Homo sapiens: one gene and its partners. The protein of the gene in region 3 interacts with the protein of the main gene of each other region in a pairwise test. Each region holds a gene or a part of one and is shown on either strand. Other genes may lie near its edges.

Evidence for each region.
Region 1: the proteins of ZDHHC21 (region 3) and ERGIC3 interact in binary tests that used the Homo sapiens proteins (3 or more experiments, as listed by UniProt).
Region 2: the proteins of ZDHHC21 (region 3) and FAM210B interact in binary tests that used the Homo sapiens proteins (3 or more experiments, as listed by UniProt).
Region 4: the proteins of ZDHHC21 (region 3) and PGRMC2 interact in binary tests that used the Homo sapiens proteins (3 or more experiments, as listed by UniProt).
Region 5: the proteins of ZDHHC21 (region 3) and MUC1 interact in binary tests that used the Homo sapiens proteins (3 or more experiments, as listed by UniProt).
Region 6: the proteins of ZDHHC21 (region 3) and ELOVL4 interact in binary tests that used the Homo sapiens proteins (3 or more experiments, as listed by UniProt).

The regions. Positions count from the first base shown.
Region 1 is NC_000020.11:35,548,578-35,552,077, forward strand, and holds part of ERGIC3 (endoplasmic reticulum-Golgi intermediate compartment protein 3), read left to right. Parts: coding exon 1-97; intron 98-230; coding exon 231-288; intron 289-3,500. UniProt on the Homo sapiens protein: Possible role in transport between endoplasmic reticulum and Golgi. Positively regulates trafficking of the secretory proteins SERPINA1/alpha1-antitrypsin and HP/haptoglobin.
Region 2 is NC_000020.11:56,361,974-56,365,473, reverse strand, and holds part of FAM210B (protein FAM210B, mitochondrial), read right to left. Parts: intron 388-3,500; coding exon 212-387; intron 1-211. UniProt on the Homo sapiens protein: Plays a role in erythroid differentiation. Involved in cell proliferation and tumor cell growth suppression. Involved in the metabolic reprogramming of cancer cells in a PDK4-dependent manner.
Region 3 is NC_000009.12:14,658,933-14,662,432, forward strand, and holds part of ZDHHC21 (palmitoyltransferase ZDHHC21), read right to left. Parts: intron 3,395-3,500; coding exon 3,283-3,394; intron 1-3,282. UniProt on the Homo sapiens protein: Palmitoyltransferase that catalyzes the addition of palmitate onto various protein substrates. Palmitoylates sex steroid hormone receptors, including ESR1, PGR and AR, thereby regulating their targeting to the plasma membrane.
Region 4 is NC_000004.12:128,281,314-128,284,813, reverse strand, and holds part of PGRMC2 (membrane-associated progesterone receptor component 2), read left to right. Parts: intron 1-3,500. UniProt on the Homo sapiens protein: Required for the maintenance of uterine histoarchitecture and normal female reproductive lifespan. May serve as a universal non-classical progesterone receptor in the uterus.
Region 5 is NC_000001.11:155,185,324-155,187,619, reverse strand, and holds the end of MUC1 (mucin-1 isoform 10 precursor), read left to right. Parts: intron 1-43; coding exon 44-165; intron 166-245; coding exon 246-395; intron 396-1,410; coding exon 1,411-1,485; 3' UTR 1,486-1,796; downstream 1,797-2,296. UniProt on the Homo sapiens protein: The alpha subunit has cell adhesive properties. Can act both as an adhesion and an anti-adhesion protein. May provide a protective layer on epithelial cells against bacterial and enzyme attack.
Region 6 is NC_000006.12:79,927,054-79,930,553, forward strand, and holds part of ELOVL4 (very long chain fatty acid elongase 4), read right to left. Parts: intron 1-3,500. UniProt on the Homo sapiens protein: Catalyzes the first and rate-limiting reaction of the four reactions that constitute the long-chain fatty acids elongation cycle.

The DNA of each region.
Region 1 (3,500 bases), on a different chromosome or scaffold from region 3:
TACTATTGAGCAGTGCCGGCGAGAGGGCTTCAGCCAGAAGATGCAGGAGCAGAAGAATGAAGGCTGCCAGGTGTATGGCTTCTTGGAAGTCAATAAGGTATCAGGAGGGATCAAGACAAGATAGGGCCAGCTGGGCTGGGCAAGCTCCACTGGGAACCGAGGGCCCAGTCAGGCCCTGAGTAGGCAAAAGGAGGACACAGCCAGTGAATGAGAGAGAATGTTCCTTACAGGTGGCCGGAAACTTCCACTTTGCCCCTGGGAAGAGCTTCCAGCAGTCCCATGTGCACGGTGAGTGATCTGCACTAGCTGGGGAGATTTAGATGCTGGCCACCTTCTTGGTGAGCTTGAGTGGTCCTCTTCTGCCTGCTGCTCATTTGTCTTGGGCAACCATTTGGCCAGAGCAGGCCTTCATCTCAGGGCAGCAGTTTGGCACAGTGGCTAAGAGCACAGGCCGAGGAGCCAGACTGCCTGCATTCAGATACCAGTTTCAGACCTTACTGGCTGTGTGACTTTGAGAAGGTTTCTTAATCTTTTTGACTCCTGTTTTCTACTTTATAAAATGTTGTGAGGGCACTTATCTCACAGGGTGTGTGTGCAGGTTAAAGATGATAGCACGGAGCCTGGCTTGTGGTAGGTACTTGTTGAAATGGTAGCCCCCCGTGTCCGATGATGACCTGTGCATGAGGCTTTGGGAGAAGCAGAGCTAGGTTGGAGCACAGGTTCTGCCACACCTGGGCTATGTCATATTTGGGCCCTATTTAGTTGCTTCTTCTGTAAAATGGGGATGATGATAATAGTACCCACTCACAGGGCTGTTGGGGTGAACAAATGAGATTTATTCTCATTCATTTGTTCATTCATGCATTCACAAAATATTTAGTAATCACCTACTAGTCTAGTTGCTAAGGGTACAGTAGTGAACAATCTGTGCCCTCAGAACATTCTAGTAAAGAAATAGACAATAAGTATATAAAATATAAATAGTCCCCAATTAACAATGGTTCAGCTTGCAATTTTTAACTTCATGATGGGTATTACATGCATTTTTCACTTAACGATATTTTCTTTTTCTTTTTTGAGACAGAGTCTCACTCTGTCGCCCAGGCTGGAGTGCAGTGGCATGATCTTGACTCACTGCAACCTCCACCTCCTGGATTCAAGTGATTCTCCTACCTCAGCCTCTTGAGTAGCTGGGTGTACAGGTGCGTGCCACCACGCCCAGCTAAGTTTTGTATTTTTAGTAGAGATGGGGTTTCATTATGTTGGCCAGGCTGGTCTTGAACTCCTGACCTCAAGTGATCTGCCCGCCTCGGCCTCCCAAAGTGCTAGGATTACAGGCATGAGCCACCGCACCTGGCCGACTTACAATATTTTCAACTTGCAATGGGTTTATTGGGACGTAACCCCAGTGTAGGTCAGGGAGCATCTGTATATGGTATATCAGATGCTGTTAAGTCATATGGACCAAAACAAGGCAGGATAAAGATGGTAATGGGGAGGGGCTAGGGTAGGGCAGTGAGGGTCCTATTTTAAATATGGAGGTCAGGGAAAAACTCTTTGATGAGGTAATATTTTAGCAAAGACCTGAAGACAGTGAGGGAGCCAGCCATGTGGATGTCTGGGGAGGAAGTGTTACAAGCAGAGAGAACAGCAAATGCAAATTCCTAAGGCTAGAATGTGCTTGGCAAGTTCAAGATACAGTAAGAAGGTTAGGGTGGCTGGAGCAGAGGAGCATGCTTAGAAATGAAGTGAGAGAGGCCGGGTGCAGTAGCTCATACCTGTAATCCCAGCACTTTGGGAGGCCGAGGCGGGTGGATCACCTGAGGTCAGGAGTTCAAGACCAGCCTGGCCAACATGGTGAAACCCTGTCTCTACCAAAAATACAAAAATTAGCTGGGTGTGGTGGCACACGCCTGTAATCCCAGCTACTCGGGAGGCTGAGGCACGAGAATCTCTTGAACCTGGGAGGTGGAGGTTGCAGTGAGCTGAAATTGCGCCATTGTACTCCAGCCTGGGTAACAGAGTGAGACTCCATTTCAAAAAATAATAATAAATAAAGAGAGGTCACAGGGCCATATCATGCAGGGCTTGCAGGGGCATTGTAGGGACTCGGGCCGTTACTCTGCATGAGATGAGAAGCCATTGTAGGGCCCTGAAGAAGGTGAGGCATGATCTGACTTAAAAGCTCTCCAGCTGCTCTGTGGACAAGACTGGGCAGGGGAAAGGACAGAATCAGAGAGGCCCATTAGGAGGCAGTTGCAGTGATCAATCCAGGCAAAAGATGGTGGGGCACGGCCCAGAGTGGCAGTGGAAGTGGTGGGAAGTGACTGGCTTCTGGATGTATTTTGAAGGTAGAGCTGAGAAGAGTTCCTGATGGGCATGAGGGATAAAGGAAAAAGGAGTCAAGGATGCCTCCAAAGTTTTGTACCTGAGTAGTAAGAAGGATGGAGTTGCCTGTAATCCTAGCACTTTGGGAGGCCAAGGCAGGTGGATTGCCTGAGCTGAGGAGTTTGAGACCAGCCTGGGCAACATGATGAAACCTTGTCTCTACTAAAAAATGCAAAAAATCAGCCGGGCGTAGCGGCGTGCGCCTGTAGTCCCAGCTACTCGGGAGGCTGAGGTAGGAGAATTGCTTGAACCCAGGAGGCGGAGGTTGCAGGGAGCCGAGATTGTGCCATTTCACTCCAGCCTGAGCGACAGAGTGAGATTCCATCTCCATTAAAAAAAAAAAAAAGGATAGAGTTGCCATTTAGCAAGATGAGGGAGACTCAGGGCAGGTTTAGATGTTCGGAAATGGGATCGTACAGCTGGTATTCGGCTTTTGACGTGTTCAGACCAATAGCATCTGGGTGTCCTTCTAGACACCCAAGGTGTCAAGTAAGTTTTCCATTCAAGCCTGGAGTTCAGGGAGAGGACTTGCCTGGAGATGCAGATGTTGGCATCATCAGCATGTGTATAGAGCTGTGGGACTGGATGAAATCACCCTGGAGGTGAGGGCAGATGGAGAAGAAGGGAAGCTCAAAGGGCTGGGTGCCAGGCCTCCCACATTAGAGGCCAAGGGTGTCAGGGGGAATTGGTAGGGGAGACTGGAGGAGGAGTGTAAGCTGGGAATGTGGCATCCTGCCAGCCACGGACGGGTGTTTCAAATACCACATCAGATGCTTCTGGATGTCAAGCGGGAATTGACCATGGCATGTACATGCAACAGTCACTTATAGCCTTGACTGAGTCATTTAAGGGTGTGACAGGACCACCCTAGAGTGGGTTCGGGAGGGAATGGGGGAGGAGTTGGAGCCAGTATTGACAGCTCTATAGTGGAAATTGCCTAGGGGAGGAGAGAGCATGAGCTGAAGCTAGAGGGAAATGTGGAGTCGAGGGAGGCTTTTCTAAGGAGGGTGATGTAGCAGAATGTTAATATGCTGTTGGAAATTATCGACTAAAGAGCATAAGTGATGCTCCAGAGACGAGACAGTGACCGGAGTGAAGTCCTGGAGAAGGAG
Region 2 (3,500 bases), on a different chromosome or scaffold from region 3:
GTGTCAGCTACTTGGGAGGCTGAGGTGGGAGGATCACTTGAGCCCAGGGAGGTCGAGACTGCAGTGAGCTGTGATCATGCCACTGCACTCCAGCCTGGGCAGTGGAGTGAGACCCTGTCTTAAAAAAAAAGTCTTAGCAAACACGTTCTTATTCACATAGAATCTTACATGACAGTAAAAAACAAATATTAATTACTGTCAAAAATCTTACCTTGACACAACCATGTAAAATATGCCCAAGGAAATTAATGAGATTCCAATGTGCAATGACACGCCAACAGTGCCATACTCTTGAAAAATCTTTTTCAGTTGCTGTGACTTGCTTTGCTTTTTCTCCTCTGTGCAGCTGACGCTGCTGCCTGTTGTCCCCGTGGCCTGGCTGGGGTCCTGTGTACAAATCAGAGAAGAGGAGGTGCTTTAGGGCAGGCACGGGCAGTCATTACCGGCTTTTATACACGCATGCAATGTTATACTCTTTCCTGCTGGATGAGAGATCAGTTACCCCTTTCCTTTTTCTTTTGAGACAGAGTCTCACTCTGTCATCCAGGCTGGAGTGCAGTGGCATGATTGTGGCTCATTGCAACCTCCACCTCCCTGGTTCAAAGGATTCTTTTGCCTCAGCCTCTCAAGTAGCTGGGATTACAGGTGTGTGCCACCACACCCAGCTAATTTTTTGTATTTTTAGTAGAGATGGGGTTTCACTGTGTTAGCCAGGTTGGTCTTGATCTCCTGACCTGGTGATCCACCCGCCTTGGCCTCCCAAAGTGCTAGGATTACAGGCGTGGATCAGTTACCCCTTTCCTACTCAGTGAGCCGAGTTTGAGCCAACTTAGTCACTAAGTGCAATGCAAGCCTGGAACTAGGTATGGCTGGCAGAATGATGACTCCAAAGATGTCCCAATCCCAGGATCTGTGAATATGTCACCTTACATGGCAGAAGAACTTTGCAGATGTGATTAAGGGTCTTGAGATAGGGAGATGATCCCGGATTACCTGGGCTACATTATTACCAACGTCATCACAAGGGTCCTTATAAGTGAAGAGAGGGAGGCAGGAAACTCAGTGTCGGGGAGGGGGTTGTGAGGACAGAAGCAGAGTGAGAGAGCTGAAGATGCGGTGCTACTGGCTTATGGAGGCAAGGGCCATGAGCCAAGGAATGCAAGCGGCTTTAAGCTGGAAAAGGCAGGACATGGATTCGAGCCCCTAGAAGGACCCATCTCTGCTGAGACCTTGACTTTAGTGCATTAAGACCCATTTTGGACTTCTGACCTCTAGAAGTGTAAGATAATAAATGTGGATTGTTTTAAACCACCAGGTTATGTGCTCATCTGTTACAGCAGCAATAGTAACTAAAACACCAGGGCTCACAAGCTTGGGGACAATGATCCTTTATCAAGCATTTTCTCTGAGCCAGGTGGTCCTCCAACCCTTTCTCCTTCCATCCTCATGCCAACCTTCAGAGGTAGATACTACTGCTTTTCCCACTTTGCAAAGGAGCAACACAGGCTTGCTGAGGTGAGGTCATTGGCCTGATGTCACCAAGATTAGAACCCAGGCCCTCCAAGGCCACAGCCTGAGCATGTGACAACCATGTTATATGCCATCAAAAAAGGACGGTGCGCACAAAATTAATGCAGCAAAAGCGATGGCAGATTTACTCCTAGAATCAAGATTTACACCTGACATCTGAAACACACAAAGTGGGGGCGATTTTTGCACAGTGCCCTACCAGGACTTGTACAGAAATCATGGATTGCATGGGACATCTGCTAACAGTTACTGAGCACCTACCAAGCCTGGAATGTGTGGGAGAAACAAAAATACCAACCTCACCCACATTAGGGGAGGGAAAAAAACCACTTCTCAATAACAGAGCACTTTAATCAAAAGACTTCTCTAAGGACAGTCCTGGGGCTTGTCCCGGCAGGTGATGCGCACCTGGCTGGAGGTCAGCTCTTGTTATGGGCTCTGCAGCTGGCCCACTTTTACCCTGTTATTTTTAGAGGCATAAGATTTTTTAGAACATTTGAGGAAAACCCTCAGTGTCCCGATGACAGGTCCCTTCTGCTGAGCCAGGAGTTGAGCTTCCACTTCAAAGGCGTCATTTCATAAATCCCTCACTGCCTCATGACCCAGGAACCTTTGTCGCTCCTGTTTTGACAGATGGATGACTGAGGCTCAGGAGGGAGGGACGGCTAACTGGCAGCATGGACTGGTGACTGGGCTGGTGACCACCAGGCCTCAGCCTCTGTGGTACTCAGCAGGCTCCCCTTTCCTGTCCTGCCAGAATGACCATTCTTAAAGGAAGACACTTTTCCAGAATGTCCAGGCTCTGGAGGGGAGGAGGGAAGATGTCATCAGCCCCCCTTTCTTTGGCCAGCACATGTGACCTCCCGTTTCCTTGAAGCCTTCTGACTAGTCCTGCCACCCCCGGCCAGGATGGCTGTGGAGGGCATCGGTTCTTCCTGATAAACAAGCCCCACCCACCTCCAGCTGCTGAGGGAGGCTGCAGAGGGGACAGCAGCCAGGTGGTGGGGACTGATAGGAGGCCACCTACAGCCCCTCGCAGGGCCAAACACCCATGCCCTTGACACCTGGCCCCATTCTGTCCAATCACTGGACCGACTGCAGCTGTCTCTGCGAGGGCCCTCTTCTTTATAGTCTTTATTTTGGCAAAAGGACTTTTGGCCAAAAAATAAAAATAAAAAGGCAGCCAGGATTCCAGCTATAGAACTGAGCAGAATCTACTGCAAGACTGTGGTAGGGCCAAGACATTCAGACACAGGGACAATCTCGGGTTAGCTGGCACCACGGTTGGCTTCTGACATTCTAGAGAACACCCAGTTACTGGACAATTTTATTCCTTTTGTTTTGATAAAAACACCCATCTATAAGCACTGTGAGCCACGCATTTTTCTTCCTAACCTTTGGGGAGACTAAAGAAGCTGAAATAAAAGAATTTATGAGGGCGTGACTTGCAGGCAATGGAAAATTTTTAGACATTCATTTCTTCGTGAAACATTGCCGTAAGTACCCGGGATGTGTTAGGCACTGTCCTGAATGCACAGGACGGCGTGACACATCTTCTGTCTGTACTCAGCATGCATGCACATGTGTGTGAGAGTGTGTGTGAGACAGTGTGTGTGTGAGATGCCCCTTCTGCCTCTCCCCAACATTTTTTAAAGTACAAAAACCTGTAATAGAGAGGGGGTAGGAAGGTTTAAAGAATGAGCCAAGGACCTTGCCAAGCCGATCGCAGTGTTTGGAGTGACACCTGTTTTCTTCCACTTGAGAAATCATATTAATAATAAACACTATATTGTGTATATTCTGTACTAGGCACTGTTCTGAGTACTTTGAAAATATTGGCTGGGCACGGTGACTCATGCTTGTAATCCTAACACTTTGGGAAGCTGAGGTGTAGGAGGATTGCTTGAGGCCAGAAGTTCAAGACCAAGCTGGCCAACATATCTTTTATTTTATTATTTTATATTTTTGAG
Region 3 (3,500 bases):
AGTTCACCTCAGGATCAATAAGACTAAATTAAAAACAAATAATATCACATATGCTTAACTTCATGGAGATATGCTATGGCCACTTGAAGGTAAAAACAAACTATACAGAGAAAACTATAAATATACCATCTTATATTTGTAAAGCACTTCACAAAGGAAGTCCACATATGTGATCCCCCTTCAACTCATAACAACTCAGCGAGACAGGAAGAGCAGACGGTAGTCTCCTGTGTCACTGATATGGAAACAGGGAACAAAGGAGCTAAGCCTCTGGCCAGAGGATGTAGAGTTAGAAGACATAGGGGCCAAGAGAGCAAGAACCCTGCTTCCCTGTATTTTGCTCTTCCTTTAGGGCATTCTAGCTGTGAAAAGCAATCTGAATGCCCTGAAGTAAACCAGCTGAAACATACCACTCTGACATAACTGCTAAGCATTCACTTTTCATTTTAAAAATCTACCCCTGGTTGCTGAAAATAAAAATGTATTCAAAACTATTTATAAATACACACAGCTATACTTCCACCAATACAACAGTGAACCCTAACTAGGAAAGAGGATTAATGTTACAATAAAAAATTTTCAAGGCTAATTTAAGCTGAATATTTTATTGTTCCAAATTTATTGTATCCAAATTGTCAAAGTATCCTAAAATTCCAGCAAAAAACCCTAGTTCAAGACTACAAATGACTTTGCACAAATGTTTTCATTTCAAAATAGTATTATACTGTCACTGAAAAAGAAACGATGTAACAGGTTTCGGTCCTAACTTAAATCGCTCTTTTTAACTTTGTCATTAAACCATTTTTTAAAGTCAAATACAGACCTGAACTGAAAAACCTTAGAGAGGCATTTCTTAAGATTTAAGAGTGCATGTTTTGTAAACAAGAAAATCTACTGTGCTTTGTTATTTGCAAGCAGGATTATAAGAGAAGTGTGCTTATGTATTAATATACACTCAAAAGTGCTCTTCAACAGCTGCCGATTGAAAGATGACTTATCATTGTTCCATCTTTCCTGTCCCCAGGAAGTTTGAGAAACAATGTCTATGATCACAGCATTCTTCTTAACCAGAACAGCTTTAAGAAGCACTAAGGTATTCAATCTATATGAGTTCTTTTTGTAACATCTGCACTACTTAGAAAGAATGATCAGGCCAGGCGCGGTGACTCAAGCCTGTAATCCCAGAACTTTGGGAGGCCGAGGGGAGCAGATCACCTGAGGTTGGGAGTTTGAGACCAGCCTGGCCAACATGGTGACAACCCGTCTCTGCTAAAAATACAAAAATTAGCCAAGCATGGTGGCATGCACTTGTAATCCCAGCTACTCGGGAGGCTGAGGCAGGAGAATCACTTGAGGCCAGGAGGCAGAGGTTGCAGTGAGGCAGAGGTTGAGATCATGCCACTGCACTCCAGCCTGGGCAACAGAGTAAGACTCCATCTCAAAAAAAAAAAAAAAAAAAAAAGAATGATCAGAGCCACAAATACAGAAAACCTTGAGGCAACGTGAGAATTGACCTCCAAACCTAAAAATGTCTTAGGCAGTTAAGTAGTGCAATTTCTGAAAACATCAAAAATTTTCCTTGCTTCCAATTTACACTGTACATTTCCCCTGCTCTCTGAACATTTCAGCAGTGCTCTATCAGGAAATTCAATGATAAAAATTCCTGAATCTCTTTAGGTCCCTTGTCTACTCTCCTTTCTGATCCTCCAATCCTTTGTACTTCCCCCTCACTGCTACCAACTTCTGAAAAGTTGACTAAAACTATGGAAGCAAGAGGCCCAGAAAGAGAAATCACCCCAACGTTAGAATTAAGGTTAAATAGCACCTTATTTGGTCACCAATAAGTGAGTCTTTCCTAGTTCTTTCTTACTACTGCATTCGTTTGAAAAAAAAAGCATCAATATCCACTTCCATCATGAACATTTGTATTTTAGTGAATAAGAAACTCTACAATAAGAAGCGCTTAAAAACTGAGCTTTTCTGTATGATCAGCAATTATCTGAATACATGTTTCACGTAGCTTTCTAAAAATCTATTACTATTGTGAGAGCAAACAGATCACTGAGCTTAAGAAAATTACTTGGGAATTAATCTTTATTCCCAAGTAATTCCCAAATAATTATTTACGTTTAAATTCAAGGCACAGTTTTGAATATCAACTATATGTCATACACTACTCTATCTTGTTGACAGATTTAGAAATTTTTAAAATTTTTATGTAGTAACAAAATGCTTTTATCGAAAATGCTCTTACTTTTTCCTATTTCAGGAAATTATCTTCTTTTTAAACAGTCTATGCAAAAAAACAAATTTCCACCAGAAGTTTGCTGAATAACTGTGCTATCAAAATAAGTTATCAAAAATAAAGAAAACTCTAAATAGACTAACATTAGAAAAAGCTAAACTCCACTTGCATCAATTTTAAATAAAAGCAATTATAAATTAAGAGGCTCATTATGTAAATTTGCATATATGCATGTATGTGTATACAAACATAAATACTACATATATGTATACAGATACATTTGTCAAATTCTACACTATACCAGTTTAAATATTTATACAGAGAGCCAATGCTAAGAAAACAGAATTAAATACAATATCTTGTTCACAGATTTTTGTGACAGCTTTAAAATGAGATACAATACAGAATTCACGCAGCATTTGTTTTCGAAGATTATATTTCTCAACTGAACATTTTCTTTAAATATTACAAGAGAGCCCCCTATTGACCAAAACTGTTAGCAGTTCTGCAGAATCAGCTAATTATCACTCACATACTTCCAACAAGTACATAATGGTAGTAGCTATATCCAATACATAATGCTTAAAAAGCTTTAAGGGGTAAGGAAGAGGTTATCAGGGTGTCTGAAATGTTATTAATTAAACAAATGAAAAGGGGATATAAACATTCGGATGCATATGGTTTATTACAATTAGAAATAGCTACCATTTAAGTACATCCTACTTGTCAGATATTGTAGTAAATGTTTTATATACATTGCCTCATTTAATACAACCACCTTAATCCTTTTGTATATCAGGCTGCAGTTAATTCTTACTTTTTTGGCTCAAATCTCTCCCTGTTAGAAAAGATAGGATTTCTGTGGAAAAATGACTTTGGGAGTTGACAGAACCATATAATCTAAATAAAGATATCCTTATTAAGATATTGTAAAACTATATAACTTTAACATAACTGTTGTTTAAAGCTGCCAAGTTGTAAGATTTACATTTTATTACCCACCCCTCTTTTCTTTGCTAGAAGTGAATTATTCTTACCATGGACAGTGATGATCCATTCTCCTCACACAGTGGCCGCAGCGGCTACAGTGATGGGAACGCTTTGGTCTCATCAAATTACACTTGTTACATAATTCCCAGAACTCCCTTTCTAAAGAAAAGAAATTAAAATCCATTTAATGAAGGCAAGTGGGTAATGCTGAAATTTACCAACAGTTGTTTAGAAGATTTTATAGGAAGCCTTCAACATAAAACTC
Region 4 (3,500 bases), on a different chromosome or scaffold from region 3:
TAAAACAGATACAAGTTCAGTTTTGCTTTTAATTTTTATTTTCATCCTCATAAATTAAGCAGTTTTGTAGCAGAATAATTCAGAAGCAGTAATTGTTAGTTTCTATGCCTAGCCAATATCTACCCTAATTTCACAATAATGGTTTTAGGATTAAATTTTGTGAGATTTTTCCATAATGCTAAACATGTGTTTATTTTTAGTCATACATTTTTAAAGTTCAGGCTCTTAATTAAATATTGACAGTGTAATTTGGTGGAGTATACACATTTTGGCAAACAGTTGGCATTAACTGTATTTGCCAATATTAAATTTAGTAACAGATCAGGCACTTGGCCAGCAGGTGAGGAAAGTTTGGTCATGTAAAAAACTGAATACAGGAGGAGAAAGAAAACCAGATTCGTTAAGCACCCACAATATCAGATCCATTAATTTTTTTATCTCCATAATTCCTCAGTGAAGTTGGTAAGTATTCCTGCTCTACAGGTGGGGAGTCTGAGGTCTAGGTATTTTAGGTAAATTGGCTTGGATTACATGTATGTCTAATAAATCCAGATGGATATTACCACACAGCTTATCTATACTATTTCTAGTAAACTGCATCCTGTGATAAACTTGTAGAGAATCTTACTGTTGTTTTTCTTTATACTCTTCCCTGGTTCCCATAAATCCAAGGATTTAAAGCCTCAAAAAAAACATGCCTTTCGGCCAGGCACGGTGGCTCACGCGTGTAATCCCAGCACTTTGGGAGGCTGAGGCAAGCGGATCACTTGAGGTCAGGAGTTTGAGACCAGACTGTCCAACATGGTGAAACCCCATCTCTACTAAAAAAAAAAAAATAAAAATAAAAAAATAAAGGCCAGGCACGGTGGCTCATGCCTTAATCCCAGCACTTTGAGAGACCAAGGCGGGCAGATCACCTGAGGTCAGGAGTTCGGGACCAGCCTGGCCAACATGGCCAAACCCTGTTTCTACAAAAATACAAAAAAAAATTAGCTGAGCTTGATGGTGGGTGCCTGTAATCCCAGCTACTGGGGAGGCTGAGGCAAGAGAATCACTTGAACCTAGGAGGTGGAGGTTGCAGTGAGCTGAGATCTCGCCATTGCACTCCAGCCTGGATGACAGAACGAGACTCTGTCTCAAAAAAAAAAAAAAAATGCTTTTATGGCTTTATGTTATACTGCCCAAAATGGTGGCCCCAGGTGGCTAATTAAAAGTAAATTAATTAAAATTAGATATAATTAAAAATTGAGTTCCTTAGTAACACTAGCCACATATAAAGTGCTGAGCCCACCATGGCTACCATTTTGGACAGTGCACTTTGTATATTTTCATATTGTGAGACTGGCGTGCCACCTACTGCACTAACAAGGCACCTCTTAGAGTATTTCTGTCTTCCCAGAGAGTTGTTGAAAACAACACTGATTCTAAAGGTCAGAGGAGGAGAAGGAGGAAACTCCATTTATTGAGCTTAGTATCGCTAATTTTCAAACAGCCCTATGAGATTGCCCAAAGCCACATATCTAGTAGGTGGCAACACTAAAAATTAAATCCAGATTTTCATAGCTTCAATCCTTCCCATTGTATTACAACATAGTCTATTCAGTTTCACATGTTTACAGAATCATAAGTTTTGAAGACTCAAACAGCTAGTATAATTTTTAACAATTTTATTTAATATTACTGCAATGGAACTTTACCAAAACAGTGCTTTTATTTTTTTGGAATGGCAAAAAATTATACACTTGACTTTTTGATAGTTTATTTTGCGTTGTTGAACCTTGCAATACTGCTGCTCCCTTATTCCAGGTGGAGTATTCTTTGACATATACCAAAGCTATATTTTTTCCAACTTACCTTTTAAATTCCACTGAAAGAAAAAAGTCACGTAAGAAGAACCCCATGAGATGCCTAATATTTAGGAGGTTGGGGAAAAGAACACATGTACCTTGAAGTGTTTTTCCTCCATTTTAAACTTTATCTTCAATTTGTTCACTTTTATTTAACACTTTAGTTTGCAGAATTGGAAACTCTGTGTTTGCAGAGTTGCATCATAAAAACTGGACCCAATCTTACCTATTTCTTCATGGATGTCCTAAAGTTGCCACTGCCCACCTCTCATCCCAGCTTCTTGCTTTGAAGCCAACTGGCTTTGTTGTTTGGGCTAATGCCCATATGCATCTATTACCTACCAGTAAGATAAAAGGATTAGCTAGGTTTTCTGATGATTTTTTATATTCTGCTCAAATTTCTACTAGTTATTTCTATTATAACTACTTAGTTGGCTCTGAATTCAACATCATCCCGTTGTTTTTAATCTTTGAGGGAATCGTATTTGTGTTAAATCCTAAAGCATATTATAAAAGGATAGCTTGAAACCAGAAGCTGTTATTCAGGGTGGAAGAAAGGAGTAGATTTAATAACATCTGGAATTAGCCATTCAAGTTCTTTTAATTGTTTTTTCAACACTCTGACATAGACCACTCCTTTCCCTGTGCACCCAAGACAGACATGACTGTATAACTCCTGTATTCTTTTGGAGCCTATATCCAGTCTCAGGATCTTTAATAATAGGATTTCAGCTCCATTTTTAAATACTGAGGAAGACTTCCCTGGATTTCATTACAGTAAAAGCTTAAGAGATGAGAAATGGAGTTAACTGAGTCTTCAAAACAGATGTGTTCCTATCCTCATGGAGTTAATAGTCTATTAAGGAAGAGAGGCAGTAAACAAGGATTTCAGTATGTAATTATAATCTGTAATATGCTATAAAAGAAATTAATAGAATGGGAATAGAGGGTAACAAAGGACTTTATTTAGATTAAGTGGCTAAGCAAGGTTACCTTTTTTATGTTAGATTCTCGAGAAAAAGGGCTCGACATTTAAGCAAAAACCTAACAGAGCCAGCCATACAAAGATTGGGTATGAGAATGTTCTGAAGTGAGATTGTTACTATGCTTTCTATACCGAGCAAAGCCATCTAGCAGTAGATCTAGAACTGATCATACTAGAAACCTCTTTAACACTGTTGATTTTCAGATTTTACTTCAGCCTTTATCTGATTAGTATTAACACAATATTTCATTTTCCATCCCTTTTAGTCAATCTGTGTTGTTTTATTTTTCTCACATTAATGACATATAGCTGGATTTTTTCATTTAATATTAGCACTATGTCCTTTAATAGCTTAATTAGTGTATATGTTTTGTGATTACGGGTATATTTAGGTTTATTTCTATCATCTTATTTTGTGATTTCTCTTCACCTTACTTTTCTTTGCCTCTTTTCCCACTATTTTTCCTTCTCTGATTGATTTTTTTATTTCTTCCATTTTCTCTCCTCTACTGATTTGGATGTATTCTATTTCTATCCTTTTAGTGATTTCCTTAAGTTTTTGCTATAGATGACTATCCTATGCTTCTGAACAATATAAGAATTTTAGCCAAACATCATTTTAGTGTCAATTTGAAAAAGCTGCCTCTTTAAGATACTTTACTGACATT
Region 5 (2,296 bases), on a different chromosome or scaffold from region 3:
GCCTCCTCTGGGAGACTGCCCTGACCACTGCTTTTCCTTTTAGTGAGTGATGTGCCATTTCCTTTCTCTGCCCAGTCTGGGGCTGGGGTGCCAGGCTGGGGCATCGCGCTGCTGGTGCTGGTCTGTGTTCTGGTTGCGCTGGCCATTGTCTATCTCATTGCCTTGGTGAGTGCAGTCCCTGGCCCTGATCAGAGCCCCCCGGTAGAAGGCACTCCATGGCCTGCCATAACCTCCTATCTCCCCAGGCTGTCTGTCAGTGCCGCCGAAAGAACTACGGGCAGCTGGACATCTTTCCAGCCCGGGATACCTACCATCCTATGAGCGAGTACCCCACCTACCACACCCATGGGCGCTATGTGCCCCCTAGCAGTACCGATCGTAGCCCCTATGAGAAGGTGAGATTGGGCCCCACAGGCCAGGGGAAGCAGAGGGTTTGGCTGGGCAAGGATTCTGAAGGGGGTACTTGGAAAACCCAAAGAGCTTGGAAGAGGTGAGAAGTGGCGTGAAGTGAGCAGGGGAGGGCCTGGCAAGGATGAGGGGCAGAGGTCAGAGGAGTTTTGGGGGACAGGCCTGGGAGGAGACTATGGAAGAAAGGGGCCCTCAAGAGGGAGTGGCCCCACTGCCAGAATTCCTAAAAGATCATTGGCCGTCCACATTCATGCTGGCTGGCGCTGGCTGAACTGGTGCCACCGTGGCAGTTTTGTTTTGTTTTGCTTTTTTGCACCCAGAGGCAAAATGGGTGGAGCACTATGCCCAGGGGAGCCCTTCCCGAGGAGTCCCAGGGGTGAGCCTCTGTGCCCCTAATCATCTCCTAGGAATGGAGGGTAGACCGAGAAAGGCTGGCATAGGGGGAGGTTTCCCAGGTAGAAGAAGAAGTGTCAGCAGACCAGGTGAGCGTGGGTGCCAGTGGGGTTCTTGGGAGCTTCAAGGAAGCAAGGAACGCTCCCTCCTTCCTCTCCTGGTCTTTCTCTATGGGACCTAGTAAATAATTACTGCAGCCACCTGAGGCTGGAAAACCACTCCAGGTGGGGGAGGAGAGAGTTTAGTTTTCTTGCTCCTATTTTCCTCCTCCTGGAGACCTCCCTCTCTCGGCTTTACAAAGACACAGATACACCCCGCCCCCCAAAACACACACACACACACACACACACCTCCTTAGGCTGGAACAGCAGAGAATGGAGGGACAAGGGGGCTGATTAGAGCCAAGAAGAGGGAGTGAAGGAGAGCAGAGGGAGGAGGGCAGCCCTGTTTACAGTCACCTGGCTGGTGGGGTGGCAGGTGCTCTCTCTGAATTAACCCTTTGAGAGCTGGCCAGGACTCTGGACTGATTACCCCAGCCTGGGGTGGCATCCAGGGGCTCTAGGAGGTACCTTTTGCTCCTCACCCTGGATCTCTTTTCCTTCCACCCAGGTTTCTGCAGGTAATGGTGGCAGCAGCCTCTCTTACACAAACCCAGCAGTGGCAGCCACTTCTGCCAACTTGTAGGGGCACGTCGCCCGCTGAGCTGAGTGGCCAGCCAGTGCCATTCCACTCCACTCAGGTTCTTCAGGGCCAGAGCCCCTGCACCCTGTTTGGGCTGGTGAGCTGGGAGTTCAGGTGGGCTGCTCACAGCCTCCTTCAGAGGCCCCACCAATTTCTCGGACACTTCTCAGTGTGTGGAAGCTCATGTGGGCCCCTGAGGGCTCATGCCTGGGAAGTGTTGTGGTGGGGGCTCCCAGGAGGACTGGCCCAGAGAGCCCTGAGATAGCGGGGATCCTGAACTGGACTGAATAAAACGTGGTCTCCCACTGCGCCAACTTCTGATCTTTCATCTGTGACCCGTGGGCAGCAGGGCGGTCAGAATGTGTGTGAGGGGGCTGGGGGAGGAGACAGGGAGGCCAGGAGGCAGTAAGGAGCGAGTTTGTTTGAGAAGCAGGAGATGTGAGGAGGAGGTGACATTGGGGAGTAGGGGTGGCCTGAGGAGCCACCTCTGGCTAACCCTGGCAGCACAAGAGGAAGGAGGAAACGAAACCCAGGCGGGCTTTGGAGGGCTAGCGTGACTGGGCTCCGTGACTGAGCTCTGTGTGCCAGTGGCTCTCCCCTCTCCTCGCCTGGCCCACGCCCTCCTTGCCCCCTGGCATGGTGCCCCCCAGGTGGCTCTATTCTTAGCTGTCCGGGTGTGAAGTAAATCCTTGGGCAGTGATAACAGCCCAGAGTCAACAGGGTTGAGATAAGCAGAGGCTGGGTCAGATCCGGGCGCTGGCACCAGGCCCAGCCCCCTCCCTGACCCCGGCTGCCCCACCAGCCTGCTGCCCCT
Region 6 (3,500 bases), on a different chromosome or scaffold from region 3:
TTACATATGTGTAACTATATATATAAAATGCAACACATTATTTTACTTAAAATGAATTGATTGTCCAGCATATTCAAATACACAACCATAAATCAATTTTATAATGGAATGTTGCCACAAGTAAAACATTTCTGAAACAAGCATGATAATGAAATATGGATGGGATTAACAAAAATTCATCTTTTAACACATTATAAAAATATATTAATATTAATTTTTATATTTCTAAAAGCTAAACAACAGTTGAAGGTTGCAAATCTAATTTCTAGTTTATTCTTGGCAATGCAAAACATTTTATGTCGTATTTTGAAGAAATAATGTATTTTTAAAGTAGTAAAAGAAAATTCAACTTCTTAGAACCAACCTAAATGAATTTAACTTAATTGTTGATCATAATAACTCCCTATTTAAACTGTCATTTTTACTAAAGCCTGTATATGCAAAATGCTTCTGGATTAGTGAACTAGGTATTAAAATACCTTACTTAAAAAATTAATCTGTGTCTATATACTGTCAATAGACAGTAAGATACAAGATACGAAACACAATATTTAATCAAACAATTTGCAAAGTCAGGAAATGACACAACTATGGTTTTAATGAAATCAGAGTTGTTAAGAAGGTGAGCTATTGCTTGATGACTCGAGATATGGGAAAAAAAGGTGATAATGACTTGAAAGAAAAACACATATGGGAACCAGGAAAACAGAAAAACTGATTTTATTTCATAGTTTTAAAAGGAGGTCTACTATTCATAGAGATTATGGCTATATCACTCAAATCAAACACATTTCAGAGTTAAAAATAAACCAATATATTTGAACCACAGGAGAGATGGTAAACTTCTCACAAGGAGGAAATGACTTAAAAGATAGCACGGCTGACTTTTGTTAAAAAGGCGTTGTGCCACGAAGGTCTTATCAGTGACTGTTCACTTTTCTTAATGGCATTTTATCATTTTATGTTCATTATCATTCTATGACCATATCTTTCTATGCTAAAGGCCCCCTATAAAACATGAGGTGTGCATCTACTTAGGTATTTCTTTTTCTATATTATAGAAAAAAAAAGATTTAGACAAACCCCCTATATTAGAGAAGAAACATTTAGACAAACTCTCTGTTCTAGGTCACAGAGAAGGAGTTGCTGTGGTATCCTGTTCTTTTCCACCAACTTTAAGGCAGGCGCTGTTTTTCCCATGAGACTTATACAAAGAGCAAAAGTACTCTGATTAATGCCATACTCCATGTAACAAAGAAAGGAAGATAAATGTATCTGTGAGGAGATTTTAATTCCTAACATCATAGATTATCTCTCACCCTTACCACACACAGAATTCCTACTGACTTCAAAGAAAGTTCTGAGTAGCGGGTAGAAAAAAAAAATTAAAGAAATAGGTCCAAACCTCTGCCAGAAATTAAGAGTAAGTAAAAGTGCTCATTCTTTTTGATGTACAGTGTGGTATGCTGTATCGTTTTCATTCAACAGAGAAATTTAAAGAGAGGACTACCACAGGAGAGAGGGAAAGAGACACTAGTGAGAAGCTGAAGATCTTACAATATGAAACACTAATAGAGGCCAATAGAAGAGTAAAAAAGTAAAGAGAAACAGGAAATAACAGAGGCATCAGAGAAAGCACACAAGACCCTACCAGTAAGTAGACTGGTGACTGGGTTTTTTTTTTTTTTTTTTTTTTTTTTTTAAGAAATGGAGTCTCATTCTATTGTCCAGACTAGAGGGCAGTGGTGCACACATGGCTCACTGCAGCCTCCACCTCCAGGGCTCAAGTGATCCACCTGCCTCAGCCTCCTGAGTTGCTGATGCCACAAATTATAAGTAAATAAAAATGTTCATTCTTTTTTATATATAGTGTGGTGCACTGTTGTTCTCTCATTCAACAGAGAATTTCCAAAAGAGAGAAGGAAAGAGGCACTAGTAAGAAGCCACCATGACCAGCTGACTGGCTGAGTTCTAACACTGGCTCTGCTACTGTGCATAGGACCTTAGGAGCACAATCTATCTTCATTTCCTCCATCTGTAAAACTGGATGGGAAGTAGGTGAACCAGATTAGTGCTTCTCCAGTTTCAATGAGAAAACGAATCACCAGGTTGGGGAGGGGGGCGGGTGGGCATGGTAAAAATGCAGATTTTGAGACAGTGGGTCAGATATGCAGCCCATTTCTTTTCTTTTCTTTTTTCTTTTTTGAGACAGAGTCTCGTTGTGTCACCTAGGCTGGAGTAAAGTAGCACGATCTCCGTCCACTGCAGGCTCAGCCTCCTGAGCTCAAGCCATCCTCCCACCTCAGACTCCCAAGTAGCTGGTCCTACAGGCACACGCCAACACACCCTATTACTTTTTGTATTTTTTGTAGAGACAGGATTTTGTCATGCTGCCTAGGCTGGTCTCAAACTCCTAAACTCAAGCAATCCATCCACCTTGGCCTCCCAAAGTGTTAGGATTACAGGCGTGAGCCACCATGCCCAGCCCATGCAGCCCATTTCTAAGAAGACCACATTTTCCAGGAAGCTCTAACTGATGCTATGCCATTATTCCATGGACCATCCCCTTTTGAGCAGTAACAAACTACATGATCATTTAGGTTTATTTTAACTTCTGAAAATTGTTACTTTTAAAAATAATTATTAGGAGGAAGAATAGACTAATGGTGAGGAAAACTGGATCAAGAAAATTTTAACTGGTCAGGGGACGCATTTTGCATGACCAGAGCACCTGCACATGTTACTATTCCATTACAGCACTCATTACACTGTCCAGTGACCTTCTTTTAAACTGTTTTCTCCCTGAAAAGAGGGGCTGGGTGTTTCATTCTTGTATTGCAAGGCCTATCAAAGTACCTAAAAATATATTTGATGAATAAATAAAGAGTAGATAATTTTTTCACACTATTCCTCTATTCTCTATCCTTTCTGCCAAATCCAAAAGCACATTTGTTGATATTCAAGGTTTCCTCAGTGTCCAAGAACCCTTCCTAGAGCTTTTCCCAGATCCTCCTCTATGCTGGCATAATAACTTTATCCTCAAGTCAACAACTCATCAACCTAGTATTTAGTGAATATATGTGCTCTACAAAGCTCAATGACCTTTTACTTCATTCCTTACTCCAGGGGAAAAAAGCAATGCCCTCACTTCTTTGCCCAACAATGCAAGGCATGCATTCATTCAACAACCACTTAACAAATCCCTGTTTTCAGCCTATAAAAGGCCACATTTTACACCATACCCTTCTCAAATTAGCCCTTCTAGTTCAGCAGGGTCAGAGAGCTTTCAAAAATTCAGCCTCCCAGGATTATCATGGAAGCTACAGTAACTGTCAACCCCTAATCCACAGCATAACAATTCCCAACCTTTTAATAATATTTGGATGAAATTCCTCCATGTCTTTACATGTTATAATACTATACTAGTTATGTTTGTTTTTCTGCATGTATTTGCATTAATATTTCCTTTAGTGCTTCTGATGAGATGCAAATATTCTATA